Homo sapiens: one gene and its partners. The protein of the gene in region 6 interacts with the protein of the main gene of each other region in a biochemical or structural test. Each region holds a gene or a part of one and is shown on either strand. Other genes may lie near its edges.

Region 1 (5,280 bases), on a different chromosome or scaffold from region 6:
CACAATGACCTGAGCTTCAGTCTACAGGTTGCTAGAGGGGTGCCATCAGCATCTGAAGGAGAGAGGGAGAGAGGGAGGGAGGTGGGGGAGAGAGAGAGAAACAGAGAAAGAGAAAAGAGGATCAAAACACCAGGTTCAATTGAGGTATTCAGACTTTTGGGGACCAAGAGAGTTATTTACTGAGCAACTCTAGGAATTAAAGAGAAAGGTACCTATTACGCAACAGCACAGTAGTCTTTAGTTTTATAAAGCAGCGTTATGACACTTTGCTTTATATACGTATTAAAGCATACAGAAAGTTCTGATGTCAGTGCAGTTTTCAACAGCACGCGCCACTGTCTGGTACGAACGTTTCATTCTTAGTTGAAACTAAATTGTCAACATAACACATGTCCTAAGCACTATTATGGAAAAATCACATCATGGTACCAGAAGATTAAGCAGCAGTCTATTATTTTTGTAAACTTATAGTATGGTTATAACCACTGTTTATGACAGCCCAGAATTACTGCCCTATGGTAAAGTTCTTTAAAGAAAAAAAAAAAAAGAAAAGAAAAATTAAGTTTTATTATAAATTCTTTGATATAATAAATAAGATTAAAAACAAAATCCCAAATGATTTTAATCACTAGCTCAGCTAGAGTAGGTTCAAAGTTAAAATTCTGTTTTCCCTAAAGGGAAACTGTGGAAACATAGAAAAAAGAAGTTATGTCTAAGAAGCACTGAGTAAAAAACTACCAGTTAGAAGGTATAATGGAGGAAAGAGCCCCCAGCTGATATAATTCTGATTTTTTTTTTTGAGACGTAGTTTCCCTCTTGTTGCCCAGGCTGGAATGCAATGGCACTATCTCAGCTCACTGCAACCTCCACCTCTCAGGTTCAAGCGATTCTCCTGCCTCAGCCTCCTGAGTAGCTGGGACTACAGGCTACACCACCACACCTGGTTCATTTTTGCATTTGCAGTAGAGACAGGATTTTACCACGTTGGCCAGGCTGGTCTCGAACCCCTGACCTCAGGTGATCCGCTTGCCTTGGCCTCCCAAAGTGCTGGGATTACACGTGTGAGCCACTGCACCCAGTCTGATTTTTTTTTTTTGAGACAGTCTCATTCTGTCACCCAGCCTGGAGTGCAGTGGCAGGAGCTACTGTGCCCGGCCTTTAAAGTCTACTTTCTGAGAAAGAATAATAGCAATATAACAATATAATAGCAATTGGGAGGGCAGCTGAGTAGAAATCATAAAGCTCTCATAAGTAATACTGTACTGGCTCACAAACAGAACAGACTGAAAAATCCAGAAAGACCTGACAGATATGAGAATGAGGTACATGATAATATTGGCATTTCAATCAGTGAGGACCAAAAGTAACCCTCAACTGAGTGTAGGGACAAGCCCAGAGCCACCTGAGGATGAATGGCTAAGCTGGAACTCCAATTCACACTTTGGCAAAAACATATTCCAGAGGAAGCAAAGATTTAAAGATGAAAACGATGCGTATGATAGATGGGAGAGCTTAAAATACATTATCAGTTAAAAAAAGATTAATAAGGCCGGGCACAATGGCTCACGTCTGTAATCCCAGCACTTTGGGAGGCCAAGGTGGGCAGATCACAAGGTCAGGAGATTCATATCATCCTGGCTAACACAGTGAAACCCCGTCTCCACTCAAAATACAAAAAAACTAGCTGGGCGTGGTGGCGGGCGCCTGTAGTCCCAGCTACTCAGGAGGCTGAGGCAGGAGAATGGTGTGAACCTGGGTGGCGGAGCTTGCAGTGAGCCGAGATCGCGCCACAGCACTCCAGCCTGGGCGATAGAGCGAGACTCCGTCTCAAAAAAAAAAAAAAAAAGATTAATAAATAAATTCAACTATGTGAAAAAGTTCTTCATGGCTGCAAACCCCTCAAATAAAAACCATAAATAAAAGACAAACTGAAAACAAAACTGTGCATCTCAGATCATATACAAAACGCTAATTTTCTTCACATATCAAGGGGAATCTCACATCAACACGCAAAGACCAACCACCCAATAGAAAAAAAATGGCCAAGTACACAGACAGGATAATTCATAGGGGGAAAAATACAAACATCTTCTAACATAGGAAAAATCAAAGCCCCTCCTAAGAAGAAAAGTGCATTATTAAAAGTACACTGCATTTTTAAAAGTACACTGCTTTTTCTCACCTATCAGATTGGTAAGTACCAAAACGTTTGCTAACACATAGTGCTGGTGAGGGTGTAGGGAAATAGACACTCTCATTCACTGCTGGCAAGAACATGAACTGTAACCCTATGATAGCCCACATCCAGGAAGTTTTCCTATGTGCATTATTACCCTATGTCTAAAACAACGTCCGGGATGTTCATTAAGGGACTGCTGATGGTAGCAAGACCAGCAACAGTCTAACTGTTGATCAGCAGTTAACTTAGGATATATATCCCAACAACTGGATATTACGCAGCCTTGGGGGAAAAGGAGGCCATAGGTATTGATATGGAATAATCTCCAAGAGGGAGATGTATTACTTTTTGTGTAAAAAGGAAAAAAAACAAAACAAAACCCAAGCTTAAAACTATATTTGCATATTCATGTATCAAGTATCCTAGAGGCATATACTAGAAACTGGTAAATGTGGTTGCTGGTGGGGGTGGGGGGTTAGATAGCTAGGGTAGGAACGTCTTAAGTTTTACTATTTACACCTTTTGGCACTATTTATTTTTGTACCATGCGCATTACACCTATTTTTTAAAAATTAAACTCAATTTTCAAAAAAGCAAATTTGGTTACATTATAAGATGGATTGTCATTGAATCAATTTTAATTATTATTAATTATTATTTTTTTTTTTTGAGACAGAGTTTCACTCTTGTTGCCCAGGCTAGAGGGCAATGGTGCAATCTTGGGTTACTACAACCTCCGCCTCCTGGGTTCAAGCAATTCTCCTGCCTCGGCCTCCCAAGTAGCTGGGATTATAGGCATGTACCACCATGTCTGGCTAATTTTGTAGTTTTAGTAGAGACAGAGTTTCACCATGTTGGTCAGGCTGGTTTCAAAATCCTGACCTAAAGTGATCCACCCGCCTTGGCCTCCCAAAGTGCGGGGATTACAGGTGTGAATCTAAGTTATTAACCCATTTATGCCGGAGGTTGCAAAATTTTTTTTTTCATGAAAAATCAGACCTTGGTGACCTTGAGCAGTAGGATATAAATAACTCCCACAAGCTTAACGTTCCAATAATGTAACACCAGGCATAAATAGGTTAATATAGAAGAGGCTACTTTTTTTTTTTTTTGATACTTCACATTCTTACCCCAAAATTCATTTAGGGTATATGTTCTCACCCTAAAATTGGGCAAAACCAAAATATTTCATGCAATCTAAAAATAATCTGTATTTAACCATGTTCATCATCATTCCTAGGTGGGCAATTAAACCACTATTAAACCATAGTGGTATGGATGTACCGACATAAACTACTAAGTAGTAAATAGAACTTGCTAACAAATACCGCTATGCAGCAATTCACTGCGTGCAATTTCACTCCTGAAATGTGGAAGCCAGTGAACAAATTTACTATAGATTACTTTTAAAAGAATTTGCCCCTTAATCATTTTACCCTACTACTACCAGTCTTAATCCTAGAACCAGCCCCCGTATGCATCCAATTTATAAAGCAGCTCTTGGAGCAGTAAACACCTGAGTTTGTTATCATCCAGTTTTCAACAGAATGAAGGGTGAAACCACGGCAGGACATGCCTGTGTGCCACCATCCTGAGCTGTAAATAAAGAGCACATCTTTAATTTATTGTCTCTCAACTGTAAATATAACCTTCAAGAACTACTAGTTGCAATGACTACAAATAATTTAAAGTAGCCAAATTTGGATATATTTTGTGCAAAAATTCTCCAAATACTCTTACCCAGTTGTAATATAACCCGAAGGGGCAAGACAACAGGGCTGCTAATATGACCACTGCTCTTGTCTTATCTCATATCATATACTCTTCCTAAACACTGGTGCTTTTGGTTTCACTATTTGTATTACTACATCACTAAAATATTTTAAATTGTTTGATACCTGAGTGTACATTTATGTTCCAGGGCAAAACAGTACCCCAGAGGAACACATATTCCAACTTGATAAGTAGTCAGTATAAAGAAATTTATTCTTTAGAGAAATCTTTTCAAAGACAGCTCTCCAAGTATTAAGAACATGTGCACTTCCACCATGCAGCCTGTCAACACAGTTAATATGCTGGCGTCACACTTGCCTCAGCAGCATTGAAGGTCTACAAAGAAAGAGCACAGCCTCTTTAACCCCAATGTGACAATCCTGCAACAATGCCAGTTATCACTATTTATAGATAAAGCTCTGAGGCACAGAAAGACTTCTTCACCCTTTTATGTAAAGAGATGGGATCTCGCTGTGTTGCCCAGGCTGGACTGCAGTGGTGCTATCACAGCTCACTGCAACCTCAAACTCCTGGGCTCAAGTGATCCTTCCACCTCCCACAGTGTTGGGATTAAGGGCATGAGCCACCATGCCCAGCCCTCATTCGCTTCCTTAAGGTTACTGGGTTAGCAACAAAAACCAAGATTCAAATCCAGGCAAGTGTAACCCCAGGGCCCACACTCCAAACAGTTATGAAATACTGGTTCCCTGAATTGCCTGATACAAAACGTGTTTCCACAGTAACATTACATGAAAGTGATTTATCAATTTACATTCTCATCACCAGTTTTCAGGAGCTTAAAGGAGATTCCAAATAAGGATACAAAAGCAAACTGAAGTCTTGATAGTGTCAGAGTCCCACAATAAACAGAACAGCTGTATTTCTTTGCCCAGGACATTCTAAGTTACACTGTTGTCCCAACATAATTATTATTAGCACCCCCAGCCCACAACTCTGAAAGTGTCTTGGTTTAGGCAATAAATTATATAGTCAACTATAAAAGAAAGATACAAAACCCAACAATCCAAAACAATTTCCTACTCAAGCGGCTCTTCCCTTCCCTACTAATTTCTAATGAGCCTCGTCATCTGTGCCATGCCCCCGACCCCCTAACAGAGACTTCTACTGCTCCCCTGGTCCATATAAGCCCCAACTCCTATTCTTCTGTCAAGAGGACAGGTATCAGGGGGTGAAAGCCTAGGATGGCTCTGCTCTAATGAAAGCATCAAGAATCTGACTGCTAAAGCACACTGCATCACCACCAGCAGGGAGTGTGTAGGGTGAGTGAAGGAGGCACATGCTATAGCTCTGTGTACAAGCTCAAAGAG
Region 2 (5,280 bases), 770 kb from region 6:
GGAAAGGAGGGGCAACTTGGAGAAAACAGACAGCGCTGACAGATGAAAACCTGGGAGTGGAGGAAAACCCATTTCTATAATAGACAGGTGGGGATGGAGCAGGGAAGCAGCCACAAAACACTGTACAGGATAGGAAAAGTAATATTTGACAAGAATACTGAATAATCAATATTGATAACTACTGGGAGGAAGGGTACTGGGAAAAAAGGAGACCAGGTAGGTATATGGTAACAACAAAATTAAATCTTCATTTTCTATCCAGGAAGTTAATACAGACAAAAAGAAATGAAAGGTGTATTTTATTTAACAAATACCTACATAGGGCATGTGAGTTAGACAAAGTTCTAGGGAATTTCCAAATTCATTTAATTCTTATATCAACCCAATGAGGTAACTACTATTGTCATCATTTTTTTAATGAGAAGATTGAACCATAAAGAGGATAAATAGCCCGATGTTACATAAAACTAGTAAATGACAAGAAAGATCAAATCTAGGCAATCTAACTCCACAGTCCATGCTCCTAACGAGCAGGCTATATTACATATCTAGTGGTAAGACAAGCAAGTTATTTAGAGACTGGGAGGTAAATACCACAATAATCATCTAAAAGAGGTGAAAGTGATTGTTTCTAGGAAAGGAAAACTGGAAAGTAAGGGTGCAGGAAGCTCTTCCATTTATTTCTTGGAAAACCATTTAAACTATCTTTAAACTGTGCATGTACATCTTGAAAAAAAAACTTTAAAAATTATAATTTCGTATTTTAGTTAACAAAGTATTTTAACTGATACTACTGCTATCCTGAGAAGCAGGCAAAATGAGTATTACTCCTATTTTATAGGTAACACACATGCGTCTTAAATATTTGAGGACCTACTATAAAACAGGCAATGTACTTTGCAGACATACATCAATTCACCTAAAAATGTTGATGAGAGATACAAAAAAGCAAGTCTTTTTATTCAGTTCTTTTCCATTTGTTGCATAAATTATATGATCCTGCATCTCTCACAATTGTGCTTAAGATGAGGGACAATATAAACTTTAAATCATGACAAAAAAAAAATCAGGAGAAATGCCTGCTAATTAATTCAAAAAAATAATTCATCCCTGCCCTTGAGGAACATCTAGTCTTGTGGGAAAGATTGGTAAACATAATTATAATTGAATGTGTACAGTGCTTAAATAGAGGAATATTAAAAAGTGCTAAGGAAACAATGTCCCCTGAGTGAAAAGAATGCTTTAAAGAGAACATCTGAGCTGAGTCTTGAAGGATGAATAGAAGTTTGACCCATTTCACGTTAAGAGGCTGTGCTAATAACAATCACAAAACATAAAAGATGCAATACCTGTATTTTCCCATTCTTGTAAAGGTGAATTCACAGTTCATGTTACAGTCTAAGACATTAAGACTTTTTTTTTTTTTTTTTTTAGAGACAGGGTCCTGGTCTGCCACCCAGGCTGGAGTGCAGTGGCATGATCCCAGCTCACTGCAGCCTTGACCTCCAGGGCTCAGGGGATCCTACCACCTCAGCCTTCCAGGTAGCTGGAACTACAGGCATGCGCCACCATGCCTGGCTAATTTTTGTATTTTTTTGTAGAGACAGGGTTTTGCCATGTTGCCCAGGCTGGTCTCAAATTTCTGGGCTCAAGCAATCTGCCCACCTCAGCCTCCCAAAGTGCTGGGATTACAGGTGTGAGCCACCGCACACGGCCTGACATTAAGACCTTTTAAATAAGAATGATTTTTTTTAAAACAAGATACATAATCTTAGCATCCTGATCCATGTTTATAGTCTCTCCCAGTGATCAACTGAAGGCACTTTCCACATGTCTAAACATTTTATAATCTAAAGTGTTAAGAGTATTATTTCAAAAGATGATTAAAAGATAACCATCCTCATCTGTCCTACTGCCCAAATTATATTGTTAACACATTTCCTGATTCATAATATTGAAATTATATATGTATTCCCTCTCTCCTGAGACTAATGGTGACCAAGCCCAGAAGATGCAAGTGACAACAGAAGCTACCATGGGAAGAAAGGTTTTAAAAGTTTGTTTTTTAATCATATCACTGTTTTCTCTTGTAGTTATTCTTAAATTATCTTCCAAGGGCAAATTTAAATGAAAATTAACTTTTTTCCAAACTGTAGTGATAAATAATCTTCAGTAAAACACAATAAAGAATATAATATATATCTTTTCTGATCTTACAAGGTGTTTTAGGGCTACATTCCGATTTCACAGAATTTAAGATACCGCTAAAACAAAAATTTTCTGGTTTTTAATCACGAAACTTTGATGTTAACTAACCAAGGCCCAAATAGGTAGTAAATTCAAAACAGTCCCTGCTCTTGAGGAACTCCTGGTCTTGTGGGAGAGACTGCTAAACATAATTATAATTGAATGTGTACAGTGTCTGAAGACAACTTGTATTAGAGCTATATTTCCTTATTTCTCAGTATGTCTTTTTGTCCCTTTCTAGAATTCCATAATTTCCACCTTATTATTCCTTTTCTCAATTATTATCTGGAAAAATTAATTTTATATTAATATCTTAAACTGGGACCCTATTCCTATAGTTAAAACTCTAGTTGAAAGTAGCATCATCTGACTTTAATTGCCTGGAAGGGCAAGCTGTGGAAAATCCTATCATGTCCTACCAATAGGAGGAAAAAGAGGTGAAAGTCAAGCCAGGAGACCACAAATGGCAATTACAAAATCATGGCAAGTTTGAATTCAAAATGAGTGTTTTTGTTTGTGTATTTTACCCGTCTTTTGTTTCTCTAAACTTAGCATCCACATAATATAGCTGTTTTTATAGAGGCTTCACTCAAATCATAACCTTTTGACTTAAAAAACATTAATATTTGTGGTAATTCTTTTAAAATTAGTTGAGTATTAGCATGATAAAATTAAAGGTTTAACAATAATAATGGAACAATTAAGGAAACTACCTCCTAAAAGTTTATCTTTTAGAGTACAGTTTTGTACAAATAATACAGAATACATTTGGTTAGGTAACAAGGTTTTAATTACCTGACTATTAGAAAAATAATAAAAATCTTGAAAGATAAGATTTTATCAATTTAACCATGTCTTTATCTTACCTTTTAAACAACTAAATAACACAAACCTCACTGAAACATTTGACCTGTTTTCTTTTTCTAAAATTACAACTATTTTGCAATATGCTCAATTTTTCCAAAGCAAAACCCACAAACATACATATAGAATATAAATGCTTAAATTCGCTTGATGAAAGTTCAATCACAAAACCCTCCAACTAATACTAAAATAATTAAATATCTTGCACGCTTACTCCAAATTCCACCGTGAAAATGATGTCTTTTCATAACTCCTATAATAGCATTTTAATCAAGGTTAGTAACAGACTGGAAAATTTGTGAAAAGAACATTACTTTAAAAATCAACATGAAAGATTTCACAACTTTTTTAGCCAGTCAGCTTCAAAGACACAATTTGATTCAATAAGCGTTACTGGCATATTATTTCCAATCTACGTGAAAAAACGCTTGGTTTAATAATGTACTTTAGGCTTTCTGTATCTTTTTGGTAAGGAAAGAAAGGAACAGGTGGAGTAGATTAGCCAGAGACCAAGGTCTTATTTTCACGCCTCTATAAATTCAATCCTCCAAGACTTACTTTCTCTGTTCTTTAAAATGGCTACCACCTTGATCTACCATGCAAAAGAAAAAATGTTCAGCATACTATCAAGATAAGTCTGGTTATTTTGATAGTTTATGTCCTCCTTTCCCACAAAATAAGATTCCCATTCCTTTACTGTTCAGATAAAATGACCATTAAATAAGTACGCAAAAGTTGGTCAGTTGGAGTATGAGGGCAACCTATATAACCCAGATTAAGTCATCTTTCCTACCATATCTGACTAGGAAAAGTAGGCAACAATATCTTTCACAGACTAAGATCAAACACAGTAGAAATGAAAAAGGGATGTCTAGTAAAGGAGAACAAACGTGGGAACCACAACCCCCCAAGAGATTATTTTAGCAGCTCAAAATAGATTAACTATTATGTGGGTTAGCAAAAATTAAGCTTTCCATAATATTTCTAAAAAGCATTTTAGAGATAATAAAACCACTTGGCGCCCCCAAACCTGTTTTTAATGTGAACACATGCTCAACAACTATTCTGAAAATATTGTTTACATATTACTATTATTTCCTACTCCCTCTGAAACCATTCCATAACTCTTGCTCTATAAAACTTCCCATAAAAATGCATTTTTCACATACAAAACACAATATACAATGTTTTAGAGTCATTTTGTGCATACATATAGCTACTAAATAGATTAACTTCAAATCTGTTGAATGTCTCCAGAAATATGACATGATCTTACCTCTCATCCTCGCCATCCACCAGGGGTGTCGTCAGCGGTAGCACCTTCAACGGGAAAAGAGAAGCAGAGGCTGCTAGGCTGCTGCTACTCCCATCTGAAACTGCTGACATTCCCCCACTGTCACCACTGATAGTCTGAGGTAAGCCAACTAAGGAGGGCTCCGCTGCACGCCTGGCATCTTCAATTTGGCTTCCAATTGCCTGAGCTAATGATTGTGCGGAGAACTGGGTAGAACTTAGTGGTATCTGTTGTGCCAAAGGCAAATTTGTATTAGTTGCTATCAAGGGAGGTTGACTAACACTTTGAACCAAATTACCATTTTGGGTAGCAGGGGTTTGTGCTATATTTTGTGGTGGAACCAAGTTTGTTGGGGCAGAAGGCATTCCAGAAGGACCAGTTGAACTAACCTGACTTGTAACAGAAATACTACTAGCAGAGGGCAAAGAACTAACTGCAGGCAACTGCTGTGAAACAATTCCTTGAGCTACTGGTTCTACTCCTTGTGGCTGGGGAGGCACAGTTAACAAGGAACTTTGGGATGCAATAACCAATTGTTGAGGAAGGCTTGGAGCACTAGTTTGAACTCCCTGATGAATAATCCCAGTTTGAGCAGGTGGAACCACTTGCGAAGATGGAGGAGCACCCTGCTGAATAACTGAAGGTGGAACCTGGGTAGAGGGCTGCTGCACTGCAGTAGGTATGTTTGCTTGCTGACCAATATTTGCAATCTGACTGCCAGTAGGTACAGCAGACACTGCTGCCGGAGCCTGGCCAACAGGCTGGACAGATGCCCCTGCAGGTTGTGCTGGGACTGCTGTGGGCTGCACTGGCAGCTGGATACCCTGTGGCTGAGCCACAGGAATCACTGTTGTTCCTGCTCCTACTCCTGCAGA
Region 3 (4,009 bases), on a different chromosome or scaffold from region 6:
ATTTTATTTTTTATTCCCAAGAATCTACTCATGCATAAAGCTAAGATGGACTTCTCTTGGGCCAATGATTCAAGTGCAAGGAATTTATTCGCAAGATCATTCCAGAAAGCTCTAGTAGGAGTGAGGAAGAGTAGGTTGCTGCTGTGGGCAACTGGGGCTTAATCCCAAAGAGCATCCTTTGGGAGACTCTGTGGATCATATCCATGAATTCCCACAGAGAGTGGCGAGGAAGCTGGGGTATTTATCCACCATCTCTCATTCATCCCTCATATGTTGAGGGTTGCTCCTGCCCCACACAAGAGAAAGTTCCCAGGTGGAGAGTCTCAGGTGTTCAGTCAGATGCTGTCAGCAAGCACTAGAATGGTAAGTTCCAAGGGTATACAGGGGTGCACCCCCCATACATCCCTCAACTAGCCTGAAATTCCATAAAAGCAGAGACTGGGCCTATATAATTCACCATTCTATTCTCAACAACTTGTCCGGGAGTTGGCACACGGTAGGTGCCCAATACAGGTTAGAGGGTAAGGGAATAAACATAAAATAAAGTTGAGACAAACCTAAAAGAGACTGTTTCATCTTCAAAGACTTAGCCTAAAGGGGGTGGGAGAGGAGTAAACATTTATTAGAAGCTTCCACAGAATTCATGCTTCTGCAAACCTGATTGCCCCTAAATTTAGCACATCAGTAGTTCCAAAGAAGAGACTTTAAGACATGCTTTAAGACAACAACAGGTGTGAATCTGCCTCCCAGATGACAATTGGCAATGTCTGGAGACATGTTATATTGGTTGTCACAACTGGAAAAGGGGTGCTGCTGGTAGCTAATGGGTAGGGACCAGAGATGCTATTAAATATCCTACAATGCACAGGACAGCTCCCCACAGCAAAGAATGATTTGGCCCCAAATGTCAATAATGCCGAAATTAAGAAACCTTAGGTTAGAGGGTGGATACGTGAACCAATTGGAGTCAATAGAAAAATCAACCACAAGGTCGAGTGCGATGACTCATGCCTGTAATCCCAGCACTTTGGGAGGCCAAGGTGGATGGATCACCTGAGGTCCGGAGTTCGAGACCAGCCTGGCCAACATGGTGAAATCCTGTCTCTACTGAAAATACAAAAATTAGCCAGGCATGGAGGTGGACACCTGTAATCCCAGCTACTTGGGAGACTGAGGCAGGAGAATTGCTTGAACCCGGAGGCGGGGGATGCAGTGAGCCGAGATTGTGCCATTGCACTCCAGCCTGGGTGACAAGAACAAGACTCTATCTTAAAAAAAAAAAAAAAAAAAGGAAGAAAGTAAAAGAAAAATCAATCACAATACTAGGAGTTTCTCTCTTCCCTGGAAGGAGCAATATGGCACCTATTTTGATAACACAGAGAGAAGGCTGGAGCTGTGTGATGTCGGGAAGAGAGGTTCTACTGGGTGCCATGTGGAGCATGTAGATGAAACTGATGCCCAGAGAAAGCTGTAGAGATGAAGAGAAACTGAGCCATTGTTGACCACATTTGAGCCACTAGATCAATTCTCCCCTGAAGTAGGTCCTTTTAATTTATATGAGCTAATAAACCCCTTTCTTGTTTAAGCCAGTAGACTTTTGTGTCATTTGCAACCAGGAGCACTCCAACTGACAGAATCAACGAACATTAAATCCTATCCTCCTTTCCTGAAGACACCAGTGTAAACAGAACCTTGTCTTGGAGCACGACTGGTTGCGAGTAACAGAAACCCACCGAAGCTGGCACAAGTAAAGAAGTATTTATTACATGGGTCCAAGGTTATCTCCAAAACCCATAGGAGCATGAAGTAAAAGTGAAATTCATGCAGAACCATGATCAGATACTTAGAAAGCAATTAATAAATACCTGTTGATCTCAATGGAATGAACACTCAATTAACTGGAATTGATAACTGCACTGGGAGCCGAGATAACCCCCCCAGCCCTCAAGGAGCCATTTGAGCTCTCATTTCTGATTCTCCCTGAATATTAGCTTCATTCTTCTGCCCTGTTTGCTTGTCTCTTTGCCCACCACCTCGAATTGGCCACTGATATTTCTAAATCTGATTGTGACCTTAAGAGCTCCACCAACTGACAACTTTCTTAGCCTCTCCATTAAAGAAAGTTCTCGAGCAAAAGAATCTGATTGGCTCAGCTTAAGTCAGGTGACAACCACTAATCCAATCGGTAGTCATCTGCCAAAAGAGGAAGCATAAGTAGACTGGCAAGTCAAATGTATTTACCCCAAGATGGGAGCTCAAGTTAGCCCTGGGTGGGGGAGATAGAAGTCCCACTGCCACCACTCCCCACCTTACCTAGACACAGACCAACAACACTGAGTGTTAACTATTCCTTTATTAGGTGGTGAGGGGAGTGGGGGGCTGTACAATGCAGGGCTTGGGAATTCAGCTACACAGGGATTTTGACCAGAAGCCATATTACAAAAATAGCCTAAAAATACCTCTATTCTGCCATGAGGCTGGGCCAGAGGATTACCAGGAAGAGAAAGTACCACTCAGGCAGCTCCTCTTCTTGTAGTCCCACATTTACAGGGACACAAAGGAATGCATACATCTGCCCTGGCTCCCATTTCCCACCAGCAGCCCCCTAGTTCCCAAAGGGAGATGGCCAAGGGTGGGGCTGGGGCAGAGGGAGTTGGCAGTGGGCCCTTCCCCAGCAAGGCTATGGAACATGTCCCATCTGGAATGCAGTGAAGTGAGGGAGGTGGGGTGGGGAGGAGGCTCCCAACACTCCCCCGACCCCTGGCCCCAGTGGGTGCGCCCAAGGGTGCCTACTTGGTACATACCTGGGTCGTGTACTCGGTACACGGGATCCCAGTCATGCCTGTGTACTAGGTACACAGAATCCAGCTTGGCCGAATGGGCCCACAGACTCAGCCCCACGGGGGCACTGGGGGGTTCACAGGGGGAGGGAGCATCTCCATATATATATTTTGTAAAAAATAATAATAATAAGTTTGTTTAAATGAATTTGTTTCTATACAAAATGTAAAAAAAAAAAGAAAAATAAAAATAATAATAATTCATTCATGTCAGAGTGTAAGGAAATGAGAGGCCAGAAGGAGAGAGAAAGGAATGAGGGAAGAGAGAAGTGGGGAAGAAGGAGGTCCCAGACTCTTCACAAGACTGAGAGGGTGGGTGGTAGCCCCCACCCATTATAAATAAAGGAAGACTGAAGCCCTGGGCTGATGACCTATCTCGGTCACGCTGCAAGGCAAGGATGCAGGAGGGTTGGTGGAAAGAGAAGAGGATGAAAAAGACTAAAAGGAAGGAAGAGACAGAGAAAGAAAGGAGGCAGGACGGGGGTCTCTTTAGGCCCCCAAGATCTAAGAACTGACGAGCGTCTCAGGCCAACACTTGCCTCTTGGGGGTAACTTCCGGCTGGGGCCCCAGCTGGGTCTGGGCCTGAGCAAGGGAGCTGGGAACAGACAAGGGAAGTGGCTGGGCAGGCAGTGCCCCAGTGGTGGTGGCCATGGCCCCAGTGGCAGTGGCTGGGCTAGGCGTGGATTCGGACCAGTCTGAGAGGGAGGGAGGTGAGGGGCTGGCCCAGTGCTCAGGGGATTCGGGGGATGGGGTCAGGTAAGGGTGCTCACTGGGAACCCGCAGGAAGCGGGCCTTTGGGGGGCTGCTGTGTGCCCCAGCCGCCGGGTACTCCTCGCCATGTCCTGGGACTGCCAGGTAAGGCGGGGGCCGCTCCTGCGGGGAGACGGGGGTCCCTGGGTTGAGCAGCTGGGGTCCCGGCGCCAGTGGCAGCAGGAACGAGGGGCCTGGAGGGGCAGGTGGGGGCAGCCGGGCCCAATCGAGGGGCACAGCCACAGGGTTCAGCAGGCCCAGGCTGAGTACACATCCTCCAGGGGGCTGGCGCCCTAGACCCGCCCGGCCTGGGCCACCAAGCTGTGCCAGAGACACTGCAGTGGCAGTGGCAGCTGCATAGGGCCCCTCAAGGGGGAAGCCACCAGGGGAAGCAGGGGGCCCACCGAAAGGCCGCGGG
Region 4 (5,280 bases), on a different chromosome or scaffold from region 6:
GGCAGGGAGTGAAGGATGCTGGGCCGGCCACTTGGGCAGGGAGGGGGTCCGGGGGGCGCGGGGCCCACCCCCCAGCAGCAGGCGCACACGGCTCTGGGGTCGCTCAGTTTATTGGTAAAACGGGCACTGAGCGTGGCGAGCGCTGGGCGCGGAAGCCTGGGGCGGGGGCGCCTTTCCTCTTGAAGAACTTCCACTGGACCTTGATGGCGAGCATCCAGTCGCTGACCGAGGGCCTCTGGCAAGCGGAGGTGCAGACATGCGCCTGGCGGGGGTGCGGGGCGCCGGACCGGCGCGCGGGGCGGGGGCGGGGCGGGGGCCCGGGCCCGGGGTTCGGAGCGCGGCACCGCCGGGGAGGGTCGCGCCGCGGGCGCCCGCGCTTCACTTGCCCGCCTTCTGCGCCTTCTGCGCCGACTTGGTGACCTTGCCGGCGCCGCCGCTCTTCTTCTCCACGTTCTTGATGACGCCTACGGCCACCGTCTGCCTCATGTCGCGCACGGCGAAGCGGCCTGGGGGGCGGGGGGCGGCGTGTGGGCGGGGCCGGAGGACTTGACCCCCCCCAACCCCAGGGCTCTGGCCGGGCGGGGGCGCAACCGCGTCGGGAATGTCCTCGGAACACGCTTAGCGCAGAGCGCGCCCCTGTGAAGACGGCCGGCCTCGCGGGAGTCCTGCCTGGGCGGCTGCTCCACGGTCTGCGGGGCGGCCACGGGGCGGGGGCAGCCCTAACGCTGCCACTGGGCGACCGCGGGCCTTCCTCACTCGCGGGGCCTCCCTCACTTTCGGGGCCTCGTCTGCACACAGGGCCCACCCCAGCTCGTCTGGGCAGGGTCACCTGCACTCAGTGACACGGAGGCCGTGGCTCTCCTGCCATGCTCTGGGCCAAGCTCCGCAGGAAAGGGGGCCCACTGCTGTCCCCAGCGCCCCATCCCCGCAGTCCTCTGCCCTCAGCCTGGATCAGCCACAGCCTGGGGGCTGCACCTCCCCGGACCACCCCGGCTCACCGAGAGGCGGGTACTGGGAGAAGCTCTCCACACACATGGGCTTTCCCGGCACCATCTCCACGATGGCCGCGTCTCCAGACTTCAGGGACTTGGGGTTGTCCTCCAGCTTCTTGCCAGAGCGCCGGTCAATCTTCTCCTTCAGCTCCGCAAACTTGCAGGCGATGTGGGCTGTGTGGCAGTCGATGACCGGGGAGTAGCCGGCGCTAATCTGCCCCGGGTGGTTCAGGATGATGACCTGCGAGCGGAGCCACAGGCGGCCATCAGGCACATCGGCGGTGGGCACCGGGAGGGCGCCAGAGCGGGGCTGGGAGGCCCAGTCACCGGCGCCCCTGCACGGGCTCCTGGGCCCGGAGTGCTGACTGGAGGGGGCTCAGGCTCTGAGGACCCAGCCCCCAGACCTGAACCTCAACATCCTCATTAAGCAAAAGATAAACAACTGAGATTCATTGTTTCGAAGGGGCAGGGGCAGCACTTACACGGCCAACCCCAGCTGGAACTAAGGCGGGGGGGTGACAAAACTGGACCTCAATTCCTGTGTTTCAGTTGTATCTCAATAAAGCCACTTTTAAAAATCATATGAAGAGGCCAGGCACGGTGGCTCACACCTGTCATCCCAGTACTTTGGGAGGCTGACGCACGTGGATCACTTGAGGTCAGGAGTTCGAGACCGGCCTGGCCAACATGGTGAAACCCCGTATCTACTAATAATACAAAAATTAGCCAGGCGTGGTGGCACATGCCTGTAATCTTACCTACTTGGGAGGCTGAGGCAGGAGAATCACTTGAACCCGGGAGGCGGAGGTTGCAGTGAGCCGAGATCGCACCACTGCACTCCAGCCTGGGCAACAGAGCGAGACTCCGTCTCAAAAAAAAAATAAATAAATCATATGAAGAGGCCAGCAAAGAGGGGCAATGAAGACTGTAGAGAATAAAAGTATGACAGAGATGTCTCAGACAGTAAGTTAACAAAAGCGTTTTTCTAGGACGAATGTAGGACCTCAAAGGCTGGGCATCCCAGCAGTGCAGCGTGGAAGACAGACCCGCGATTGCACACAGGCTGGGAGCCACAGGGCCTGCACCCCTCCCAGAACTGATTGATCCCCTCGTTGAGTGCTCGGTGGCCCCCTCGGTGGTATGCGGGTCCCTTTTCTTTTTTTTTTTTTCTTTTGAGACGAAGTCTCGCTCTGTCACGCAGGCTGGAGTGCAGTGGCGCAATCTCGGCTCACTGCAACCTCCGCCTCCCAGGTTCAAGCGATTCTCCTGCCTCAGCTTCCTGATAGCTGGGACTACAGGCACGTGCCACCACGCCTGGCTAATTTTTGTATTTTTAGTAGAGACGGGGTTTCACCATGTTGACCAGGATGGACTTGATCTCTTGACCTCGTGATCTGCCCGCCTCGGCCTCTCAAAGTGCTGGGATTACAGGCGTGAACCACTGCGCCCAGCCTGAGGGTCTGGTTTTCTCCCCACGCCAGGCCACCTGCCGACAGCAGCCTCACCCAGGACAGTCCTGCTGCTGTCCAGCAGGCGCCAGCCCCCTGGACCCAGCGCAGCCCCCCACCTGGGAGGTGAACTGAGCAGCCTCCTGCGGCGGGTCAGACTTGCTGTCCCCACACACGTTGCCCCGCCGGATGTCCTTCACCGACACGTTCTTCACATTGAAGCCGACGTTGTCGCCGGGCAGAGCTTCGCTCAGAGCCTCGTGGTGCATCTCCACTGACTTCACCTCAGTGGTGATGTTCACTGGCGCAAAGGTCACCACCATGCCCGGCCGCAGGATGCCGGTCTCCACCCGGCCCACGGGCACCGTGCCAATGCCTGCAGAGGGGAGGGGGTGTGAGGGGAAGGTGGGGCCCGAGGGGATGCTGGGGCAGGATATTCGGGGACAGAGCCTGGAAACCAACAAAGCCTGGGACTGGATCCCCCCGACAGGCCTGGGGGTTGGGGCCACATGGGCGGAGTGCAGGGGAAGGGAGGCCAGGGACAAGGGCAGACACAGAGATTCCAAGGGAAGTGGGGGCTCTCCCACCCAGCTGGGGAAATAAGAGGCTGAGCAGCAGAGCTCCCAGGAACCCACGGAAAAGCCACAGGGACAGAGAAGCGGGAGGATGGGCAGAGAGGGGCTGTCTGAACCTGGGGTCCCATCCTTGCCCCCGGAGAGCACTTTCCCTCAAAGGAGGCACTATGGGACCCCTCCTTTGTCTGAGGACTCCTCCCTGTGAGTGTGGGCGGGGCGACTGACTGCTTCTGCCTGGGGCCTGGTGGCCCTGCTCCCTGCTCCCTGCAGGCCCTGCTCCCTGCTCCCTGCAGGCTCTCTGGGCCCCACTTGGATGCTGCAGGTCTCTATCACTAAAGGGGCCTCTCAGCCAGATGCAGCACAGGCACAGCGGCACATGAGCGTCCCTGGCATTTCTCATGGATCTACTTAAACCAATTGTGCAGCTGCCACATGGGGGTCTTGTCCCCCCCCAGGCTACTGGGTCTCCACCCTCACCTCCCAGGGCTGTGAGGGAGGCCTGTTGTAGCCTCCAGCCAACTTCACTGAGGCCAGTGGCTGTGCTCTGTGCTGGGGTGAGCATGATGCCCCCACAGTGCACACAGAGATGCCTGCAACATCTTTGGCTGCAGCCCACTGGCTGGGGGTCTCCTATCAGTGCCCTTCTCTAGGGTCTCAGATTTGTTTATGGTTTCTCTTCTTGGTGGGATGGATGGATGGATGGACGGATGGATGGGGAGGTGGGTGGATGGATGGATGGATGTATGAATGGGGTGGTAGATGGATGGGGAGGTGGATGGACAGAAGGATGGGTGGGGAGATGGATGAGTAGGGAGATGGATGGATGGATTGGTGGATGGATGGATGGATGGATGGATGAGGAGGTAGATGAGTGGATGGACAGAAGGATGGATGGGTAGGAAGGTGGGTGGATGAATGGATGGATGGGGAGGTGGATGGATAGATGGATGGATGGATGGATGGATGGATGGATGGATGGGGGGATAGATGGATGGATGGATGGATGGACGGACGGATGGGGAGGTGGATGGATGGATGGATGGATGGATGGATGGATGGATGGATGGATGAGGAGATGAACGGATGGATGAGATGGATGGATGGATGATGGAGGGAAGGATGGCTGGGTGGGGAGATGGATGGATAGAGAGGTGGATGGGTGGATGGGGAGATGGATGGATGGATGGATGGATGGGGAAGTGGATGGATGGGGAGGTGGATGGATGGATGTATGGGTGGGTAGGTGGGTGGATAGATGGATGGATGGATGGATGGATAAATGGATGGATGGAAGGATGGATGGATAGGTAGGTGGGTGGATGGATGGATGGATGGATGTACAGAAGGATGGATGGGTGGGTAGGTGGGTGAGTGGATGAATGGATGGATGGATAGATAGAAGGATGGATGGGTGGGTCAATAGATGGATGGATAGAGAGAAGGATGGATGGGTGGGTAGATGGATGGATGGATGGATGGATGGATAGAGAGAAGGATGGATGGTTGAGACAATGGATGGATGGATGGATGGATGGAGAGATGGATGGATGGATGGATGGACAGAAGGATGGATGGGTGGGGAGGTGGATGGATGGATGGAAGGATGGATGGATGGATAGAGAGAAGGATGGATGGGTGGGACAATGGATGGATGGATGCATGGATGGATGGATGGAGGGATAGAGAGAAGGATGGATGGGTGGGACAATCAATGGATGGATGGATGGATGGATGGATAGAGAGAAGGATGGATGGGTGGGGAGATGGATGGATGGATGGAGAGGTGGATGGATGGATGGATGGATGGATTGATGGACAGAAGGATGGATGGGTGGGGAGGTGGATAGATGGAGAGATGGAGGGATGGTTCGATAGAGAGAAGGATGGATGGGACAATGGATGGATGGATGGATGGAGTGAAGGATGGATGGGTGGGGAGATGGATGGATCGATGGATGGATGGATGGATAGATAGATGGATGGAGAGGTGGATAGATGGATGGGTGGATGGATGGACAGAGGATGGATGGGTGGGGAGGTGGGTGGATGGATGGATGGATGTGGGATGGACTGTCCCACAGAAAGTGTGTGGTAAGGGGAGAGATTGGAGACAGCCCAGTCTTGAGATGCCTTGTAGGGGCCCCTGGTCTAGGGCAGGCAGAGCTGGCCAGGCAGGAGCTCCAGCACAGCGCCCTTGCTCACCGCCAATCTTGTACACGTCCTGCAGCGGCAGGCGCAGGGGCTTGTCCGTGGGGCGCGTGGGGG
Region 5 (5,280 bases), on a different chromosome or scaffold from region 6:
TTGCCCAGGCTGTTCCCTCTGTCTGGAATACCAGGCTCCCTTCTGGCTCATTCAGATTAGAATTAGCCCAGCTCAGATGTGACTCTTCCAGAGAGGGTCCAGGCATTCAAACCCACTCTCTGCCATGTCATTTAGCTTTCTGTGCCTCAGTGTCCCCACTTAGAATACAGGCTCATGTTGCAGGTTTGTTGTGAGGGTCAAATGAGATGATACATGCACTATACTGATCTCACAGCCTGCTTCTGGTGTGCATCCAGTCAATGAACGTCATTGATAAACACTTGAGGAAACACAGAGGATCACGTAAGGATGAAAAAATGACTGCTTTGTGCTCCTTTCCAGGAGTGGCGGGTGAGGAGGAGCTGCAGGTGATTCAGCCTGACAAGTCCGTGTTGGTTGCAGCTGGAGAGACAGCCACTCTGCGCTGCACTGCGACCTCTCTGATCCCTGTGGGGCCCATCCAGTGGTTCAGAGGAGCTGGACCAGGCCGGGAATTAATCTACAATCAAAAAGAAGGCCACTTCCCCCGGGTAACAACTGTTTCAGACCTCACAAAGAGAAACAACATGGACTTTTCCATCCGCATCGGTAACATCACCCCAGCAGATGCCGGCACCTACTACTGTGTGAAGTTCCGGAAAGGGAGCCCCGATGACGTGGAGTTTAAGTCTGGAGCAGGCACTGAGCTGTCTGTGCGCGGTGAGTACAGCGTGGGCCTCCTTTGCCTCTGGTTTGTGACAGTAACTCAATAATAACACCCTCCATTCTTTGAGCAATGATCAGGTGTGGTGGTAGGTGCTCCTTTCCATGAATTGATGTCTCCCCCTTTTACAAATAAGGGAAGTTGAGGCCTGAAGACGTCATGCTATTTGCTGAAGGCTCCACAGCTGGTAAAGGGTGGGAACATCTGCATCCTTCATCTGCCTGGCTGTGTAGCCCTGGCCTCTTCAAAGCTGACCCAGCCCTTTCATTCCACAGATGAGGAAACTGACAGATAGTGTGACTTGCCCAGGCACAGGACCAGACCTCACCTGCTGCCTCCAGAGAGCACTTCCCTCTCAGGGCAGCCGAGTCTCCTCTATGTGACAGGCACTCACTGAGAACCTACTGTGTGCCAGGCTCCGCCAAGCTTGTGTTCTCATCCCTTCCAATAAGAGATCCACCCAGGGCAGGGAGCAGAGAGGGTGTGTTTCCTTTATTTCATCACCAAACACCAACTGAGAAGATTCCTAAAAGGCACAGATTTACTGTTTAATCTGATGGCCCTGGTGAGAGGAGAAGCCAGAGGGTTGGGCATTTTCTGTGGGTCTTTTAGAAAAACACTTGTGTGATTTAGGGACTGATTCATGCGTCACTAAAGGCTCTGAACAAAGCTGGGTCATCATAGAATGTCTCTCACCCCAGGGAGGAGGTCTCCCTTCTAGGTGACTTTGGGTTCCTCCGTTAAGGCAGCAAAGATGCTCATTTTGTATTTACTGCCAGAGCCCCAGGATCCTTGTTCTAACTCCGAATCCTGGGACATTAGTACAGGAAGGACCCTCAGACCATCCAGCCCAACCCCTAGTTACAGGTGGAAACTTGAAGTCAGGAGATGACAGGGGCCTTGTCCACAGTCATAGGCCCAGTTAGTGACAGGATCTGGACCAGAGCCCACATCTGATTCCAGGGAGGCTCCTTCATTAGCCATTGTTTACATAGAAGAGCCTGGTGCATCATAGGTGCCGACTGAAAGCTCCTTGAACAGAACTGCTAAGCAGGAAGCCAGCACTTCTCCTTTCCATCAGTTTCCTAAAGGTTCAGAATATTCACATTCAGACCGTTAGGCCCACTGGTGATTGGAAAACCGCTCCCAAATGTAAGCCATATCATTTGATACTGAGATTTCATATCAGGATAGAGACCTGCTCCATTGTGTAATAGCTACAGAATACTCCAGCTTATGGAAATACCAGATTTATTTTACCATCTTCCATTGATGGATACGTAACTTGTCCCCAAACTTGAACTATTAAAACAGTCCTGCAGTGGATGACCTTATACATGTGTGACCTTACTCAGGTGGGAGACGCCCACTGCAAGTGCCATTGCTAGATCAGAGGGGGTGTGTGTTTTAATGTGTGTGGATATGGCCTAATTTCCCTCCTAGACATTATAACAATCAAGTCTCCCCACAACCGCTGGACATAGGCAGGGAGGGTGGCTTTATCCTGATTGTGCAGATGTTACAGGAAAAGACGTTGAAGTTCCCAGATGATGCATCTCGTGCCTAGACAATCACAGCAAATACGTGGCTCAGGTGTGACCCAGATCTGCTGACTCCTAGCAGAGTGCTCACTCCTCTTTGCCATGCTGTCAGCCTAAATGATGCCCTGGATGAGAAAGGAGGGAGGTGGGAGGGGGCCAGGGAGCAGCAGCTGGATTGGATCCTCATCCTGGCACTTTCTCCTTTTATAACAAGTACTTATGAAGGAAGAGCCATTTCTTGCCCCCTTTACAGATAAGGACTCTGAGGCTCAGAGAGGAGACCTGTGTGGTGAGCCAGTGGGGGAGCCAAGGTTTGATCCCCACCAGCCTGACTCACAGCCCCTGTCTCTGTAACACTCAGCTATGCTTGTCAAAGTGTGGAGAAATGCTCCACCCTACTCATTCCAAACTCTTGCAGTTCTATAGCAATAAGCATAGGCTGAGGCAGGAGAATGCTTGAACCCAGGAGACGGAGATTACAGTGAGCCGAGATCGCACCACTGTACTCCAGCCTGGGTGATAGAGCAAGATTCTGTCTTGAAAGAAAAAACAAAACAAGTCCTATGGGAGTAGGAGGGACTGGCCCCCATCAGAAAGGTCCTGCAGATGTCTCATGATATGGGAACTTGTTCCTAAAGGACAGGTCTCAGCACATCACTGAGTAGCATCCATGGAGCAGAGTTGGGCCTCCTGCAGCCCAGCAGACCACGTGCCCACCTACTCACGGTGCTGAGGACTAAGGATGAGGAGATGAGGCATTTCCTGGTGGGTGCTTGGGGCTCATTGGAGCAAGAGTTTATATTATCCCCTCAGGCTGTCAGGAGCCCACTGACTTCAGTTTATGGCTATAGGGTAACCAGATCTGGGTACCCTGGAGGGAGGCTTCTCCCTAGAACTGCATGAAGTCAGGGATCTCAAAGGGAAAAAGGGAAGGTGGTGGTCAGTGTCAGGGTTCATGAAGTTCAGGCACTTGCTCAATTGATTGACATGAGAGCTTGGGGAACACTGGAAATGCCCATTGGGTACATGAGGGATGAGGAGACAGTGCCTTCGCTTTTCTCAGCCTCAGTTTCCTCATCTGTAGAATGGTGATAATCAGGGACTCCTTTGGCAGAGTGGAAAGGATTTGAGTTCCTGTGTATAAAACACCCAATGCAGAGTAGACACCCCCAAATCAAGGTTTTTTGTTTGTTTGTTTGTTTTTTCTTTTTTTTTGAGATGGAGTTTCACTCTTGTTGCCCAGGCTGGAGTGCAATGGCACCATCTCGGCTCACTGCAACCTCCACCTCCTGGGTTCAAGCGATTCTGCTTCAACCTCCCAAGTAGCTGGGATTACAGGGGCACCCACCACCACACCAGCTTTTTTTTTTTTTTTTTTTTTTTGTATTTTTAGTAGAGACATGGTTTCATCATGTTGGCCCGGCTGGTCCCAAACTCCTGACCTCAGGTGATCCCCCCACCTCGGCCTCCCAAAGTGCTGGGATTACAGGTGTGAGCCACTGCGCCCTGCCATCAAGGTGTTATTTTAAGATGTGTTACCTTGGGCAACCCAGTTCCCCTTGCTGAGCCTCAGTTTCCCCATGCGTAGAACGTCGATAATTGTACCAACCTTTCCAGGATGTTATGAGGATGCAATGAGCCTGGGGCGACGATAGACCTTAGTAAGCAATGGGGTTTTCCCAAGGTCATGTGATCTTGGGCAAATCCTGGCTTCCCTTGAGTCCTCAGCTTCCCTGTCTATGAAATGATGATGATGATTGCCAACCCTCACAGGTTCTGTGAGGATTGGAGAGGATGTACAGAGCCTCGGAATGGTGGCGGTGTTCGGGTTATCACTGAGCTCCTGCAGAAGTGTGGTTAGGAGAGTGTGGCCAGAGTCCAACTGCCTGGGCCACATCCCAGCTCTGCCACCTCCTGGCTCTGTGACCTGGGACAAGGCACTCCACCACCATGGGCCTCAGTGTCCTCACTTGTCAGTGATAACACCAACCTCACAGACCAGGAGTTGGGACCGAATGAGTTAAATCCTGTAGCGTGCTTAGGGCAGCAGGCGCCTGGCCTGCAGTCAATGTTCAACAGATGTGAGCTGTGTGATGCTGAAGCCATGCAACCTCAGATGGGTTAGTGCTCCTCCAGGCCTCAAGGATAAATGGTCCTTAGGATGTACTCAGGTAGTTTTCAATCTTGGCTGCTCTTTAGGATCATCTGGGAAACATTGAAATAAATCCCAGGCTCCACCACAGAAATGCCTCTTCAATTGGCCTGGCATGGGCCTAGGCATCTAAAGTTTTTAATTAATCCAGAAGATTCTAATACAGAGTCAGGACTGAAAACCCCTGGGATAGACACCCAGAGGTCACGGAGGACAAGTTGGAAAAGATGGTCCTCTTGGGGTGCCAGATGGGAGAACAGCTTTTCAGGGTGTGGATGCTTCTGAACAACGTGCACCCGGGACAGCTCTTTGGAGGCCCCAGTGGCCTGGCCAGACCCCCTCTTATGATACAGGCCTCGGGGGCCAAGGTAGGGGCCCCAGACAAAGCCCTGCTCAGATCCAGCCTCAGTGTGGGGAAACCTTCCATCCTGAAAATGTTTTTGTCTAAATGACCGCCGGAATCCCAGCAAATCCTTCCAATTCGGCCCCAGAACCCTCCCTGCCTCGACACACCAAGATGTCACGGAGGAGTCTGTTCCCTCCTCCTTTAAAATGCTTCCAGCTTCTGTAAATGGCTCTTCTGGAGGGAGGCGCCTGTGATCTTGTGTTTTGAAAGCCAATTCGCCAAACTTGTTTCCTGAGGGGATTGTTTAGAAAAGGGGAGAGAATCCTCACTTGGTGGTTTCTGCTCCTTGTATCATTTGGGTTTGTCATGAGCCACAGGGAGCAGGGTTTGAGCCTTTTCTTGGTGTTTCTGCTCTGCTTTGTTCTGCTGCCTGAAGGATAAATGTGTAGATTCGGAAGCAGTAATGACCAGACCTCCTGATAACAGTCACAGGGGTCATTTATTAAGCACCTGCTGCATACCAGGCTCTGTGCTTGCA
Region 6 (4,386 bases):
TCTAGAATCTTACAGGATTTAAAGATTGGCTAACTTTTGAGGTTCTTTCGCAGTGGGTATACTTTTGTGAAAGTCCTTGCTTTTTTATTAATGAGTTCACGGAAAAGAGTGGTTGCTTTTCTATAATATGAGCATACTGAAGCCTGCAGTCTGTTTCCGTTTAGAATTAGAATAGTATTTTGAAAATAGTCAACAAGAAATGTAAACATTCTTGAAAGATACCTTCTGTGAACTAGTAATTTCTTAACAGCTGGTTGCCTTTTTCAGTGTTTTCTTTTTTTAAGCTTGGATATTTTTTACTTTAAAAATTGATTTTACTGAAAATTCAATACTTCAACCTGTTAATGAAATGTTGTTTTAGAATCAAAGGGAAACTTGAAGAACAGAGACCAGAAAGAGTAAAACCTTTTATGACAGGGGCTGCAGAACAAATCAAGCACATCCTTGCTAATTTCAAAAACTACCAGGTAAATACCTTAAGTATCTGGATCAAAGGATTGTACAATTTTAACTGCAAGAGCAAAAATTAAGTTGATTAATCTTCAATTCTATACTAGTATTCCAGGTGTAGAAAGTGGCTTTCCCAGCTCGCAGGTGTTTCCAAATCTTGTCTTCTGATTGAAAATTTGCTTCCCAGATGACATTTCTCAGTTTTTCTTTTTGTGAATTGCTTAACCACCTAAGTGTTCTTTCAGTTTTTTGCTTACAATTTTAATGTGTCTCATTGCTACTGGTCCTCCTTCTAATGTATCTGAGCTTGTTAATTCTACTTTTGGAAAATGTCAGTGGCTTTCCCTTTCCTCTAATTTTCCAGCTTCATGCATCCCCTGGCCATAAGATACTTCCAGACTGTATGATATATTCTATCACTGTCAGCCTTATGTTCCCTGTGGTTGACTATATAAGCACGCTTTAGGGTTTGGGATTGTATTTAGGATTGAGAGTAAAGGTTTCCTGAAAGCCTAGTGTTCCTGGATTGCTCTGTACGTTATTTTTCTATTTAGGTCACTATTAAGGTGCCTTAATCCAGTGAACAGATGTCTATGATAAGTGAGCATCAGAGCTTTTGGGTACTGAAGTTTTGATTTTTGTGGTGGTCTAAACCTTCCCTTGTACTGTAGTTTGTTTTGAATGGCATGTATTTGTATGTAATAGTCTAATTCTAGGTATTTTGTTTGCTTCCCAAGTTCTTTATTGGTGAAAACATGAATCCAGATGGCATGGTTGCTCTATTGGACTACCGTGAGGATGGTGTGACCCCATATATGATTTTCTTTAAGGATGGTTTAGAAATGGAAAAATGTGTAAGTACAAGGAAGTGGGTTAAAATAAATAATGTAAAAAAGACATTTTAGATGTGATTTGCAATTGTTTTGTGACACTGAGAATGAGTTTTACAGCGTTCTGAAACATGGTTTTAGTTTTCTCTTTGGGGATCAAGAGAATTGTGTTTCATATGTAAAAAATTCTTAGGGTATAAAAAGGCTTAGAATCTTATTTGTGGAAAACGTTGAGTGCAGATGGGGCATAATAAAGTACAGTTTAGGCTGGGTGTGGTGGCTCACACCTGTAATTTCAGCACTTGGGACGCCGAGGTGGGTGCATCACCTGAGGTTGGGAGTTCGAGACCAGCCTGGCCAACATGGCGAAACCCTATCTCTGCTAAAAATACAAAAATTAGCCAGGCATGGCAGCGGGCACCTGTAATCCCAGCTAATCGAGAGCCTGAGGCAGGAAAATCACTTAAACCTGGGAGGGGGGTTGCAGTGAGCAGAGATCCCACCACTGCACTCTATCCTGGGTGACAGAGTGAGGTGCTGTCTCAAAAAAATACAGTAGAGTTTAAATGCTGAAGGAGATCAGAGAACACCATTGATCTTCCTCTAGATATGGCCTCACTTTCACTTCATAATCATATTTTGCTGTATACGTATGGATCAGTATCAGTGGTTTTCACTTTGGTTTACTGATAATGGGCAGCTGATCATTGAAAAGCCTAGTGCAGTACTAGCTTAGTAAATAGAGCTGACTGCTGAACTGGTATGCAAATTGTTTTACTAATAATAAATAACTTGGTGTCTTCTATGGAAGGAACTGCTGGAAGCTGTACAGAAACAAAGGCATTCATTATCCTAGTTTTCATAGGCTTCTGTATAAGGAAGAAGAAAAACATAAAGCTATACTGAACAAGATTAGAGTCAACAGTAGACAGAAATTACTTAGAACAGTATAAGATGACTTACCAAAGGGGTTATTCAGACAGTATCTGAGGTTTTTGTTGGTAGAGCAGGGTGTGGGTGGTACATGCCACAGCCTTCTGAAAAATGAGCTACCGCTGATTTGGTAAGGGTGTTCTGCATCCACTGATAGACCTTGAACAATTTACTGTTGTTCTTTTGGTTTGCACTAGGATGCAAAAGAAAGAAATCCCTGCGCTTTCTGTCTGTCTTTGTGGCGGCCCAGATTGAATTGGGGAATACATCTTTAGCCTGGAAATGTAGGCTGCATGTTAATGGTAATGTAACTTTTGCAGTGTAATGTTTGAAAAATATTAATGTAGTTTTTGCTTTTACAGTAACAAATGTGGCAATTATTTTGGATCTATCACCTGTCATCATAACTGGCTTCTGCTTGTCATCCACACAACACCAGGACTTAAGACAAATGGGACTGATGTCATCTTGAGCTCTTCATTTATTTTGACTGTGATTTATTTGGAGTGGAGGCATTGTTTTTAAGAAAAACATGTCATGTAGGTTGTCTAAAAATAAAATGCATTTAAACTCATTTGAGAGAATGCCTTTTAGTTTAATGCATATTTAAACTAAATTGATCCTGTAGTGTTCCTGGAGAAGCTAGAGCCTGATTGTAGGCTACTACTCATCAATTAACTTCTACAGTGGAGACTACTTCTGGGACTGGAATATAAAAAAGAATCAAAGGTTCTGATTTTGAGTTGCAATAAAGGGAAAGACCATGCTCATAGCAGTGCCAACATCTGAAGTGTGGAGCCTTACCCATTTCATCACCTACAACGGAAGTAGTTAACTGGAAGAGATTACCAAGAGAATAAAAAGAGACTCATTCAGTGGAAGCAACTTTGTCTCAGCTTATTTCACATAAAGAGAGCGAAGTCTTTTGGGATGAATGTTAATTAAACTCCCTGGTAACTAGAACAGGGACTGGCAAACTAGCCTATCTGACCACCTGTTTTGTACACTTTAAGGTGGTTGGTTGCCTTTTTAAATGGTTGAGGGGAAAAGAATACCTTGTGGGATATGGAATTTAAGTTCGAGTCCAGTTTTATTGGAACGTGGCTATGCTTATTCATTTATGGATTGACTGTGGCTGTTGTCAGTGCATGAGCAGAGTTGTGTCTAACAGACTAGAGCCTGCAAGTTTGCCAGCCCCTGATTTAAAAGATGAAGGTACACAGAATGTGGGCTGGCTGGTGGGCAAAGGGGTAAAAATGTTCTCTATATTGTATCTGAAAAGATGGGGTGTCTGAATAAGAAAATGCATCTATTTGACAGACCTGGAGCAGTTGCTATCTGCTGCTATGGTTTCCACCACAGATGCAAGAAGAACATGTCCTTGCGCTTTCCGTCTGTCTAATTGTGGCAGCTGAGATTGAATAGAGGAATACAGGAGGAAAAAAAGCGGGAAGAGTTTTTGAGGCAGGTCGGTCACCCAGGCTTGTAGTGCAGTGGCACAAGCAACTCACTGCATTCTCTGCATCCTGTGCTCAAGCCATTTTCCCACCTCAGTCTCACTAGTTGCTGGGACTGCAGGCATGCACCCCTATGCCCAGCTAATTTTTGTAGAGACCGAGTATCGCTTAGTTGCCCAGGGTGGTCTCAACTCCTGGGCTCAAGGAGATCTGCCCACCTCAGCCTCCCAAAGTGCAGGCCTAGCCTGGGAGGGGAATTTTCAAAACGTGAGTTTTGGGAAATAGTCTATCAGCCTTACCTGGTTGATTACACTTGTAAAAGAAAGATTAAAAGCAGGCCAGTGACTCTGGTCTGCTTGAACATGTGAATGTAGTGGTTTGAGCAATCTGGAGTTTGCCCTAGTGTCAAATTCCAGACTGTCCATAGTGTCCAAAACCTGAGGCAGATACTAATGTTAACCCCCAGCACCCCGTGATTGGAAACAAACCTAAATACGTATTGGGAACTTAATAGCAATTTTAAGCATTCTGATAGATTTTTTGTAGGGATGGGGTCATGCCATGTGGCCCAGGCTGGTCTGAAAACTCTGGCCTCAAGTGATCTCAAGCTTTGGCCTTCTAAAGTGTTGGGATTACAGGTGTGAGGCATTGCACCTGGCTTAGCGTTCTGATTTGACATTGTAATGAAAAGTGTGAGTCTCATCTACAGGGCCTTT

Evidence for each region.
Region 1: the proteins of TPT1 (region 6) and RHEB form a complex in vitro, tested with the Homo sapiens proteins (one study listed by IntAct).
Region 2: the proteins of TPT1 (region 6) and TSC22D1 form a complex in vitro, tested with the Homo sapiens proteins (one study listed by IntAct).
Region 3: the proteins of TPT1 (region 6) and NOTCH3 form a complex in vitro, tested with the Homo sapiens proteins (one study listed by BioGRID).
Region 4: the proteins of TPT1 (region 6) and EEF1A2 form a complex in vitro, tested with the Homo sapiens proteins (one study listed by BioGRID).
Region 5: the proteins of TPT1 (region 6) and SIRPA form a complex in vitro, tested with the Homo sapiens proteins (one large-scale study listed by BioGRID).

Annotation. Positions count from the first base shown.
Region 1 is NC_000007.14:151,477,854-151,483,133, forward strand, and holds part of RHEB (GTP-binding protein Rheb), read right to left. Parts: intron 1-5,280. UniProt on the Homo sapiens protein: Small GTPase that acts as an allosteric activator of the canonical mTORC1 complex, an evolutionarily conserved central nutrient sensor that stimulates anabolic reactions and macromolecule biosynthesis to promote cellular biomass generation and growth.
Region 2 is NC_000013.11:44,568,776-44,574,055, forward strand, and holds part of TSC22D1 (TSC22 domain family protein 1), read right to left. Parts: coding exon 4,388-5,280; intron 1-4,387. UniProt on the Homo sapiens protein: Transcriptional repressor. Acts on the C-type natriuretic peptide (CNP) promoter. Acts to promote CASP3-mediated apoptosis.
Region 3 is NC_000019.10:15,157,299-15,161,307, forward strand, and holds the end of NOTCH3 (neurogenic locus notch homolog protein 3 precursor), read right to left. Parts: coding exon 3,364-4,009; 3' UTR 1,740-3,363; downstream 1-1,739. UniProt on the Homo sapiens protein: Functions as a receptor for membrane-bound ligands Jagged1, Jagged2 and Delta1 to regulate cell-fate determination.
Region 4 is NC_000020.11:63,487,920-63,493,199, forward strand, and holds the end of EEF1A2 (elongation factor 1-alpha 2), read right to left. Parts: coding exon 5,218-5,280; intron 2,817-5,217; coding exon 2,560-2,816; intron 1,234-2,559; coding exon 999-1,233; intron 507-998; coding exon 379-506; 3' UTR 95-378; downstream 1-94. UniProt on the Homo sapiens protein: Translation elongation factor that catalyzes the GTP-dependent binding of aminoacyl-tRNA (aa-tRNA) to the A-site of ribosomes during the elongation phase of protein synthesis.
Region 5 is NC_000020.11:1,914,757-1,920,036, forward strand, and holds part of SIRPA (tyrosine-protein phosphatase non-receptor type substrate 1 isoform 1 precursor), read left to right. Parts: intron 1-342; coding exon 343-699; intron 700-5,280. UniProt on the Homo sapiens protein: Immunoglobulin-like cell surface receptor for CD47. Acts as docking protein and induces translocation of PTPN6, PTPN11 and other binding partners from the cytosol to the plasma membrane.
Region 6 is NC_000013.11:45,335,578-45,339,963, reverse strand, and holds part of TPT1 (translationally-controlled tumor protein), read left to right. Parts: intron 1-361; coding exon 362-467; intron 468-1,187; coding exon 1,188-1,304; intron 1,305-2,354; exon of another isoform or gene 2,355-2,410; coding exon of another isoform or gene 2,411-2,488; exon of another isoform or gene 2,489-2,575; coding exon 2,576-2,578; 3' UTR 2,579-4,386. UniProt on the Homo sapiens protein: Involved in calcium binding and microtubule stabilization. Acts as a negative regulator of TSC22D1-mediated apoptosis, via interaction with and destabilization of TSC22D1 protein.